2 linked regions of the Homo sapiens genome follow. The protein of the gene in region 2 interacts with the protein of the main gene of each other region in a pairwise test. Each region holds a gene or a part of one and is shown on either strand. Other genes may lie near its edges.

Evidence for each region. The genes of interacting proteins can lie anywhere in the genome.
Region 1: the proteins of ZNF837 (region 2) and TRMT2A interact in binary tests that used the Homo sapiens proteins (3 or more experiments, as listed by UniProt).

What each region holds. Positions count from the first base shown.
Region 1 is NC_000022.11:20,111,338-20,114,226, forward strand, and holds the end of TRMT2A (tRNA (uracil-5-)-methyltransferase homolog A), read right to left. Parts: intron 2,472-2,889; coding exon 2,349-2,471; intron 2,225-2,348; coding exon of another isoform or gene 2,171-2,224; coding exon 2,095-2,170; intron 1,898-2,094; coding exon 1,781-1,897; intron 1,671-1,780; coding exon 1,574-1,670; intron 1,480-1,573; coding exon of another isoform or gene 1,458-1,479; coding exon 1,226-1,457; 3' UTR 538-1,225; downstream 1-537. UniProt on the Homo sapiens protein: S-adenosyl-L-methionine-dependent methyltransferase that catalyzes the formation of 5-methyl-uridine in tRNAs and some mRNAs. Mainly catalyzes the methylation of uridine at position 54 (m5U54) in cytosolic tRNAs.
Region 2 is NC_000019.10:58,371,031-58,378,067, forward strand, and holds part of ZNF837 (zinc finger protein 837), read right to left. Parts: exon of another isoform or gene 6,553-7,037; intron 3,624-6,552; exon of another isoform or gene 1,512-3,623; intron 1-1,511. UniProt on the Homo sapiens protein: May be involved in transcriptional regulation.

The sequences.
Region 1 (2,889 bases), on a different chromosome or scaffold from region 2:
GCCCCCTACAGGCGGTACTGATGGCGCTTTTTTTTTTTTTTCTGTCAGGAAAACAATGTTGGCCTGTGGGCCGCCCACAACATATCCTTCCCTCACTACCTGTGTGACCAAGGTTGGCTTCTGTTGACCTTTAAAAAAGAAACCCTCAACTCAAATTGCTATAATTAGACACTTGCTTCTGTCTTGCCTCCTGTCTGCAGCTGTGAATAGTCATTTGACTGTGACTGTTGCCCTTAGCCAGCCAGATGCGCCTGTGAACCAAAGCTTCGTGCACATGTGTTCCCCTAAAGGTTGGGGAGCCTCGCTGTGTCTTGCTGTTCCCAGGCACCACCACAGCAGGTGCTGCCATACTCTTGTGGTCTCTGTGCGCCCCCCCCCCCCCCCCACCCGTCTGCCAAGCATGGGTATGAATCGTGCACACAGCCATGCTTCAAGGCCGGGGCAGGGGAGCCTGTGCTGATGCCATCCAGGGCACTGGGCTGTGCCTGGAAGGCGAGCCTTGATTGTCTGAACACATAAAGCAAACTGTCCAGAAGGGAATGGCTGATGTCTTTATTCTGAGGGTGAGAGGCTGGCACCCTGTGGACCCTTGACTGGCCAGATCCCCTCCTGGGGCCTCCCTGCAGGCTGGACCCTGCCTTTGTAACAGCTGAGCAGCACCCCAGCATGGCCCCTTCCTTGGTTGATGCCCTCTCTGCTGGGCTGAGGGCCAGGCTGGCCACAGAGGGGCCAACTCTGCCCAGTGTTCTCCACCCCATGCCCCCAGCTGGTGCAGTTCCCAGACCTCTCTCTGCCTCTCCTCAAGTTTAAGTATCAAATCGAACATTCTTTTTTAAAGTAAGCTCTGCCCTGACTCCCCCAGCCATGCAGAGAGGCTTGCAGAGCTGCCTAGGCCTAGTTTGGCCCTTTCCCTGGCACCCAGGCCCTGTGTTCAGACCCCTGGCTCTCATCACAGAAACACCCTTTGTTGAGCAGTTGTTTATTCTGGCCCTCACAGCCTTGGCTAGTCCACAAAGGCCCTGGGGATGGGCAACAGGCTACAGGAACCCACCTGTCTTCCTGGTCAGGGCCCCTGGCCCCTAGCAGCAGGCCAATCCTGGTGGGGCACAGGGTTCTGTGCCCTTTGGCTGCCTACCTCTGAATATCCTGGCCAGCAAGCCATGCCTTCCCCGCCCCTGGGGCCCTGGGAGCCCTTCAGCTCCTGTCCCCATAATGGGTCCTGGGCCTAGGATGAGGGGAAGGTCCCAGTTTCTTGTAGGGTGTTATCTGGGGGTCCTGGTGTGGGTTGAGCTGGAGGGCTGTGGGGCCCCAAGACCCCTGTGCCATTGGGGTGCTCCACCCTCTCAAACAGGATGAGCATCTCACAGTGCGGGGTCTGCGGGAACAGGTCCACTGCCACAGCCTTGACCGGCCGGAAGGGAATGCCCTTCACCCGGTTAGATGGGGCTCTGCAGAGGCTGTGGGGGGAAAAGGGGGGCGCTAAGGTCAGCCGATAGGCTAATCAGGGGCTCCTGTGGGAGCTGGGGGCTTGGTAGCAGGCCTAGCCCCCACCCAGGCCCCTGCAGACACTCACTCCACAAAGTTGCCCATGGCTGCCCGGGGGTTGCATGAGACGTACAGCAGCCGCCTGAGGTTCTTAGCTCTCCGGATGGCCAGGATCACCTTGGAATCTGAGGAGGCAAACACCAGCTGGGTCCCCACAGCCAGAGAGTGCATAACATGGTGAGCCACCCCATGTGTCCTCGTTCCCGTGCCACCTCCTTAAGCAAAAGCCACTCACGCAAGCCAGCACGGGGTGGGTCCAGGATGGCCACGAGGTGCTGGGAGGCCAGTCTGCTCACCAGGGTGGGCACCAGGTCCTCGGCCCTCCCGCAGTGGAACTCCACATTACTCAACTCTGAAGAGATGGCACCGTGGCCTGTCAGAGGGCCACATGCCCTCCCAGCAGGGCCAGCCCTGGGGAACCCCTAGCCAAAGAGCTTGCTCACTTGCTCTACCTGTCGGGCAGCCCCCAAGCCCTGGCTGTGGCTGAGGCTTGCAGCAGGGGTGGCGGCTGCCCCCATCCCCACCCCCACCCACGGCCTTGCCACTCACCATTGTCCTGGGCGTTCACCCGGGCGTCCTCCACAGCCTCTGGGCATAGCTCGACCCCAATGACCCTCTTTACCTTCTGAAACAGGAAAGCGTGGTGTCGCCCCACCCAGGGAGGGGAGTACATGGGGCCCTGTGGGCAGCAAAGAGGAGCTGGGCCTGGGGCATGATGGAGTCAGCTGTGGTGACTTTGAGCTGGGGTCAATGGGGGTCTTGGGGTGGGGAGAGGGTGCCCTCAGCAGGGCAGGAGGGCTCACCCGGGCCAGGGCCAGGCCAATGGTGCCGGTGCCACAGCACACGTCCAGCACCATGCTCCCCGCATCCAATTGGGCCCAGTCCTGGATGACTGTGTAGAGCACCTCGGCTGCGGGTGTGTTCACCTGGGGGCAGGCGGTGCCCAGGATGTCAGTGGCTCCTCTCCTGTGGTGCCACTGGTGCCCCGACGCCCACATTCCTGGTCCCTCCATCCTGCCGGGACCTCCGGCGCCCACTCCCCACCTTGGTGCCCAACGTCTTCCCTGACCCCACCTTGGACCAGCCTTGCTGATGCCCTCATCCAGCCCCTGGCTTTAAAAGCCAAGCCCGTGCTAAGCACAGCCTCCTCCTTGCCCCACTTGGTTGAGGGCTCATGAGGCCCCGCAGGCCAATAGGCTGTACCTTCCCTGCCCCAGCAAGGGGGCTTTGCCTCCCACAACTCACACCGGGGCCCCTGGAATCACCCAACTGCAGCTCCCACCCCCACACCTAGCCCTCCAGGAGGTCCTGCCAGGCCTGTCTCCAAAAACGGCCGCTCCAGGT
Region 2 (7,037 bases):
GGAGATCGATACCATCCTGGCTAACACGGTGAAACCCCGTCTCTACTAAAAATACAAAAAATTAGCTGGGCGTGGTGGCGGGCGCCTGTAGTCCCAGCTACTCGGGAGGCTGCGGCAGGAGACTGGTGTGAACCCGGGAGGCGGAGCTTGCAGTGAGCCGAGATCACGCCACTGCACTCCAGCCTGGGCGACAGAACGAGACTCTGTCTCAAAAAAAAAAAAAAAAAAATTGCCGGGCATGGTGATGCATGCCTGTAGTCCCAGCTACTCAGGAGGCTAAGGCAGGAGAATCACTTGAACCTGTGAGGTGGAGGATGCAGTAAGCTGGGATTGGGCCACTGCCCTCCAGCCTGGGCGACAGAGCGAGACTCCGTCTCAAAAATAAATAAATAAATAAATATTTTCCTCATTGTGATGTGATGTGAGGTTTCTCAGCCTCACACGTGATAAGTGCACAATCCTCCTGTCCCCTCCCTAGATCTCATTGTTTCCAGAACAAAGATGGATCTGTCCAGCACAGCCTTTAGACTCTGAATCCCGGATGGCTAACATCATATGCAGAGCGTGAGATGGACACACTTGTGGCACCCTCGTAAATCACTGCTTCACTCGGCACAGGAGCTCAGATTCTTCTCCTTTTGTCCTGTGTTCCCTATTCTGTGCAAGGCAGATATCCTCTTATTTTATTTTATTTATTTTGGTGTTTTTTGAGACAGAGGCTCTCTCTGTCACCCAGGCTGCAGTGCAGTGGCGCCATCTCAGCTCACTGCAACCTCCGCCTGCTGGGTTCAAGCAATTCTCCTGCCTCAGCCTCCTGAGTAGCTGGGATTACAGGTGCCTGCCACCATGTCTGGCTAATTTTTTGTATTTTTAGTAGAGATGGGGTTTCACCATGCTGGCCAGGCTGGTCTTGAACTCCTGACCTTGTGATCTGCCCACCTCGGCCTCCCAAAGCGCTGGGATTACAGGCGTGAGCCACCGTACCTGGCCAGATATCCCTTTATTTATTTGTTTGTTTGTTTGTTTATTTTTATTTATTTAGAGACAGGGTTTCACTCTTGTTGCCCAGGCTGGAATGAAGTGGCACAATCTCAGCTCACCGCAACCTCCGCCTCCTGGGTTCAAGCAATTCTCCTGCCTAAGCCTCCTGAGTAGCTGGGATTATAGGCATTCACCACCAAGCCCGGCTAATTTTGTATTTTTTTCTTAGTAGAGCCGGGGTTTCACCATGTTCACGGGGCTGGTCTTGAACTCCTGACTTCAGGTGATCCACCCGTCTCGGCCTCCCCAAGTGCTGGGATTATAGGCGTGAGTCACCGCACCCAGCCGATATCCATTTATTAAATGTCTCAGAGGGCCGGGTGTGGTGGCTCATGCCTGTAATCCCAACACTTGGGGAGTCCGGGGGGGGCGGATCACGAGGTCAAGAGATCGAGACCATCCTTGCCAACATGGTGAGACGTCCTTGACCTGATGTCACTTTTTCTGTCTGTTTTGCAGATTTCTAACAGGCAGTTGCCCTGGGCCACCTGGTGGCCTGAAATAACTTGACCGGGAACTAAAAGGACTCACGAAGCATTTAACCAAGACTCTACATGTTGACTTTTCAGCCAAGGACACTTCAGAGCGACTGGCTGCAGTTCTCCAAAGGAAGCTGCTGCCAGTTGCCCCTGGGGGGTTATTTCCTTCTTGGACATCATGACCACAATGGCAGAAATGCATTGATGGCCAGCACTCTGGGGATGAATGTTTTTGAGTGGAAATGAAACATACCAAACTGGTTAAAGACAAAAATGCAGAGTTGGACAAGTTCTGCAGGTCACGAAAGGCCTTTGAAGCAGCCAGGCCCGGTTCCTGCTCTGCTGTATGGGAGGCTGCTGGCCTGAGCTGGAGAGCAGAAAGGCCCAGTGCCAAGGGTTCAGCAAGTACCAGTCCCAGGCCAGGCATTTGCTAATAAGCCAGGGTGACAGTAAGGACAAGGGGACTCTGGTGTGATGTGAGGTTTCTCAGCCTCACTTGTCACACGTGATAACTGCACAACCCTCCTGTCCCCTCCAGGCCTGTGTGAGACAGGAAAGGTGAGGCTGCCTCTCCCTCTGCACCTTAAAGCCACTCGGGGTCTGGGTTTTCCTGAGACTTCCCGGAGCCAGATGCAGACTCCCAAAGGCGCCGATCCTTCCTCGATCTCCCTCCCTCAAGAGTGGCACTAATCAGGTCTAATTTAGAGAAAATCCATCACCTCCCCCCACTGTGGGCTCTGCCACTTCATGCCTTGGTCTCTCCACCTATCAGCCAGCTGGAGCCTGGGACTCAAGGAGGCATGCTTGGAAGTAAGGAACTTCTCTGAGTACGAGGACATCTGGGTGGTGCTGAACACCAGCATGCTTTGCCCCGTGGCCTGGACTGTGCACAGGGCACCTAGAGTGACCTGTCACCTCCCACGCAGGTGGAAGGGTGTGAGAGAGAATGGGCACTCAGTTACAAACATCCCCTTCCCAAACACTTGTGGATCTGAGTCTGAGGCTACTCCTTCCAGGTGAGGGGTTGGCTGCTGTTGTAGCTTGTTACTCTCTTTCTGTCCCTTCTGCCCTCAGGTCTTGACCATGCAGCTTCCCAAGAACAGGATGGGGAATGATATGGGCACATGGGGAGGCAAGCAGCCACAGGCCTCACCTGCTCATGGGCACTGACCGTCCCAACAGCAGGTGGACATGAATCTAACCCACAGACACCAGAGTAGAGGGAGCTGGGCTCCCTGAGTCTGGATGGGGTTCTCACAGGCCCCCACAGGGAGACAAGGGAAGCTTTCTCCAGAATGTGGAGTACGGACTCACTGTGTGAATAAAGTAAATGAGCTGGAGGGGGCGGGACAAGATTTCAAAAAGCACCACTCATACACCCAGGACTGGCAAAGCTGCTGGCAGTAAGCTCTATCATGGGGCTCCCCCACTGCAGGTGAGCTGATTGGCCTCAGCTGGCACCATCCATGCTCAGTGTTTGCCCTGAGGACAAGAAGACATGGCAAAAAAGAGGAAAGTACAGAACACACTCCCACCTGGCTGGTGGGGATATAGATAGTGCAGCTGCTGTGGAAACCTTCAGCTCCACAGAAAGGTAAAGATGGAGCTACCACACCCCGAGTAATTCCACCCCTAGGTATCCACCCAAGAGAAATGAACTCAGGCATTCAAGCAAACACTGGCTCACAGATGTTCAGAGCAGCGCTGTTCACAGTAGCCAAAATGGAGAAACAAGCCAAGTATATAAAATGACAAATGCATAAATAAGATGTGGTATATCCATAGAATGGGATATTATTCAGCCATAAAAATGGATGAGTACTAACACATACTGCAACATGGACTTTAGAAAACATGGAAAGTAAAAGCAGTGAGTCACAAAAGACCACATATTGCATAATTCCATTTATACGATATATCCAGAATAGGCAAATCCACAGAGACAGAAAGTAGACTGGTGGTCGCCAGGGGCTGAGGGGAAAGAGTGGGGAGTAATTGCTTTACGGGTATCAAGTTTTGGGGTAATTAAAATGTTCTGGAAATTATAGTGGTGATGGTTGCACAACATAGTGAATATATTAAAACCTAAAAAATATACTAAAACCTGGCCAGGCGGTGGTTCACACTTGTAATCCCCGCACTTTGGGAGGCGAAGGTGGGAAGATTACTTGAGGCCAGTTCGAGACCAGCCTGGCCAAAATGTCGAAACCCCATCTCTGCTAAAAATACAAAAATTAGCCGGGTGTGGTGGCACATTCCTGTAGTCCCAGCTACTTGGGAGACTGAGGCAGAGAATCACTGGAACCTGGGAGGTGGAGGCTGCAGTGAGCCGAGATCGCACCACTGCACTCCAGCCTGGGCGACTGAGCAAGACTCCATCTCAAAAAAAAAAAATTATATATATATATACACACACACAAAAACATGGCCGGGCACAGTGGCTCACGCCTGTAATCCCAACACTTTAGGAGGCTGAGGCAGGTGGATCACTTGAGGTCAGGAGTTCGAGACCACCCTGGCCAACATGGTGAAACCCTGTCTATACTAAAAATATGAAAATTAGCCAGGTGTGGTGGCAGGCGCCTGTAGTCCCAGCTACTTGAGAGGCTGAGGCAGAATTGCTTGAACCTGGGAGGAGGAGGTTGCAATGAGCCGAGATCACAACACTGTACTCCAGCCTGGGCAACAGAGCGAGAATCTGTCTCAAAAAAAAAAAAAAGTATATATATATATATATATATATATATATATATATATATATAAAATTACATATATACTTAAGAGTATATATTTATATAGAATGTAAATATATATTAGAGATATATATATACTAAAACCCAACCTGAATTGTAAAATGGTTCATTTGTTACATGATTTATATATTTTTGTTTTGTTTTGTTTTGTTTTGTTTTTTTGAGACGGAGTCTCCCTCTGTCACCCAAGCTGGAGTGCAGTGGTGTGATCTCAGCTCACTGCAACCTCTGCCTCCCGCGTTCAAGCAAGTCTCCTGCCTCAGCCTCCTGAGTAGCTGGGATTACAGGCATGTGCCACCAAGAACGGCTAATTTTTGTATTTTTAGTGGAGATGGGATTTCACCATGTTGGTCAGGCTGGTCTCGAACTCCTGACCTCATGATCCGCCTGCCTCGGCCTCCCAAAGTGCTGGGATTACAGGTGTGAGCCACCTCGCCCAGCTGATTTATATCTTTTTTTTTTTTTTTAAAGCAGAATGCACCCATGCCACAGTGCTCCTTCCTGCAGCCTGTCAGGCGTCGGCCCACCCTGCAACATCCAGGATGTCATTTGAGCCCTGGTCACACGAAAGCACTGCATGGGATGAAGGTGGTTTATTTATTTATTTTTATTTTATTATTTATTTATTTTTTTGACACAGAGTCTCGTTCTGTTGCCCAGGCTGGAGTGCAGTGACACAATCTCGGCTCACTGCAACCTCTGCCTCCCAGGTTCAAGCAATTCTCCTGCCTCAGCCTGGCGAGTAGCTGGGATTACAGGTGCCTGCCCCCACGCCCAGCTAATTTTTGTATTTTCAGTAGAGATGAGGTTTCACCCTGTTGGCCTGGCTGGTCTCAAACTCCTGGCCTCAAGTGATCCCCCTGCCTCAGCTTCCCAAAGGTGCTGGGATCACAGGCACAAGCCACTGCGCCCGGCCGAAGGTGGTTTCTTTTAAGCAATACATTTGTATTGAGAAAAACAAGTTCTTGGCCGGGCGCGGTGGCTCACGCCTGTAATTCCAGCACTTTGGGAGGCCGAGGCGGGCGGATCACGAGGTCAAGAGATCGAGACCATCCTGGCTAACACGGTGAAACCCCATCTCTACTAAAAAAAATACAAAAAATTAGCCGGGTGTGGTGGCAGGCGCCTGTAGTCCCAGCTACTCCGGAGGCTGAGGCAGGAGAATGGCTTGAACCCGGGAGGCAGAGCTTGCCATAAGTCAAAATCAGGCCACTACACTCCAGCCTGGGTGACAGAGCAAGACTCTGTCTCAAAAAAAAAAAAAAAAAAAAAAAAAAAAAAAAAAAAAGAAAGAAAAGAAAAAAGGAAAAAAAAAGAGAAAAACAAGTTCTTTTAAATCTCTAGGTAAAAATAAAATAATTTCTCACACACAGCCAAGTCAACTGCATACCAGAGTACCAAGCATAGTTTCCACATCAGAGGCTTAAGCTCTGGGGTAAAAGCATTTTCTTTAACCAGGTGTCTGTTAATTCACTCATATCAAAGAGAAAACTTGGCTGGGTGTAGTGGCTTATGCCTATAATCCCAGCACTTTGTGAAGCCAAGGTGGGTGGATGGCTTGAGCCCAGGAGTTAGAGACCAGCCTGGGCAGTATGGTGAAACCCTGTCTCTATTAAAAAAAAAAAAAAAAATGGCCGGACGTGGTGACTCATGCCTGTAATCCCAACACTTTGGGAGGCCAAGGTGGGTGGATCACGAGGTCAGGAGATTGAGACCAGCCTGGCTAACATGGTGAAACCCCATCTCTACTAAAAATACAAAAAATTAGCCAGGCGAGGTGGCGCGCACCTGTAATCCCAGATACTCGGGAGGCTGAGACAGGAGAATCACTGGAATCCGGGAGGCGGAGGTTGCAGTGAGCCAAGATCGTGCCACTGCACTCCAGCCTGGGCGACAGAGCGAGACTCCGTCAAAAAAAAAAAAAAAAGGCTGGGCGCAGTGGCTCACACCAGTAATCCCAGCACTTTGGGAGGTGGGCAGATCACGAGGTCAGGAGATTGAGACCATCCTGGCTAACATGGTGAAATCCCGTCTCTACTAAAAAATAGAAAAAATTAGCCAGGTGTGGTGGTGGGCGCCTGCAGGAGAATGGTGTGAACCCGGGAGGCGGAGCTTGTAGTGAGCCGAGATCTTGCCACTGCACTCCAGCCTGGGTGACAGAACGAGACTCCATCTCAAAAAAAAAACTATCCAGGTGTGGTGGTGCAAGCCTGTAGCCCCAGCTGTCAGGAAGCTAAGGTGGGATGATCGCTTGAGCCTGGGAGATTGAGGCTGCAGTGAGCTACAATTGCACCACTGCACGCCAGCCTGGGCAACACAGTGAGACCACATCTCAAAAAAAGAAAGCAAAGAAAACTCTTCATTAGAAACTGAACATGCTCGCTGGGAATGATATTCAGGGCACAGGGCAATTCCTTACAGGGGCACACACCCAAGGGCACTGCTGCCACCACATGGGAAGTTGTGACGGGAGGGAGGAGACTGAGGGCAGGACACAAGACATGGAGACACACATTCTGGTCTGTCTGACCATGGAGCTCTGTCCACACCCAGGCTGCCTGCTGGCTCCCAACCACCACACACAGTATCTGGCGTTTCTCACAGGTGTCGGCTTCTCTCTCTCGAGTCCATCTGCTGGCCGTGGACCTGGCTATTCGGGGCAGGCCCATCCTGCCCACCTCCCCACACTCTCTCAAGCCTCTGTCTCTGAGCACTGCAGGTTTTGTAGTGTTCCCTCGTCTACCTCTGAGAGGCCAGGCTGACT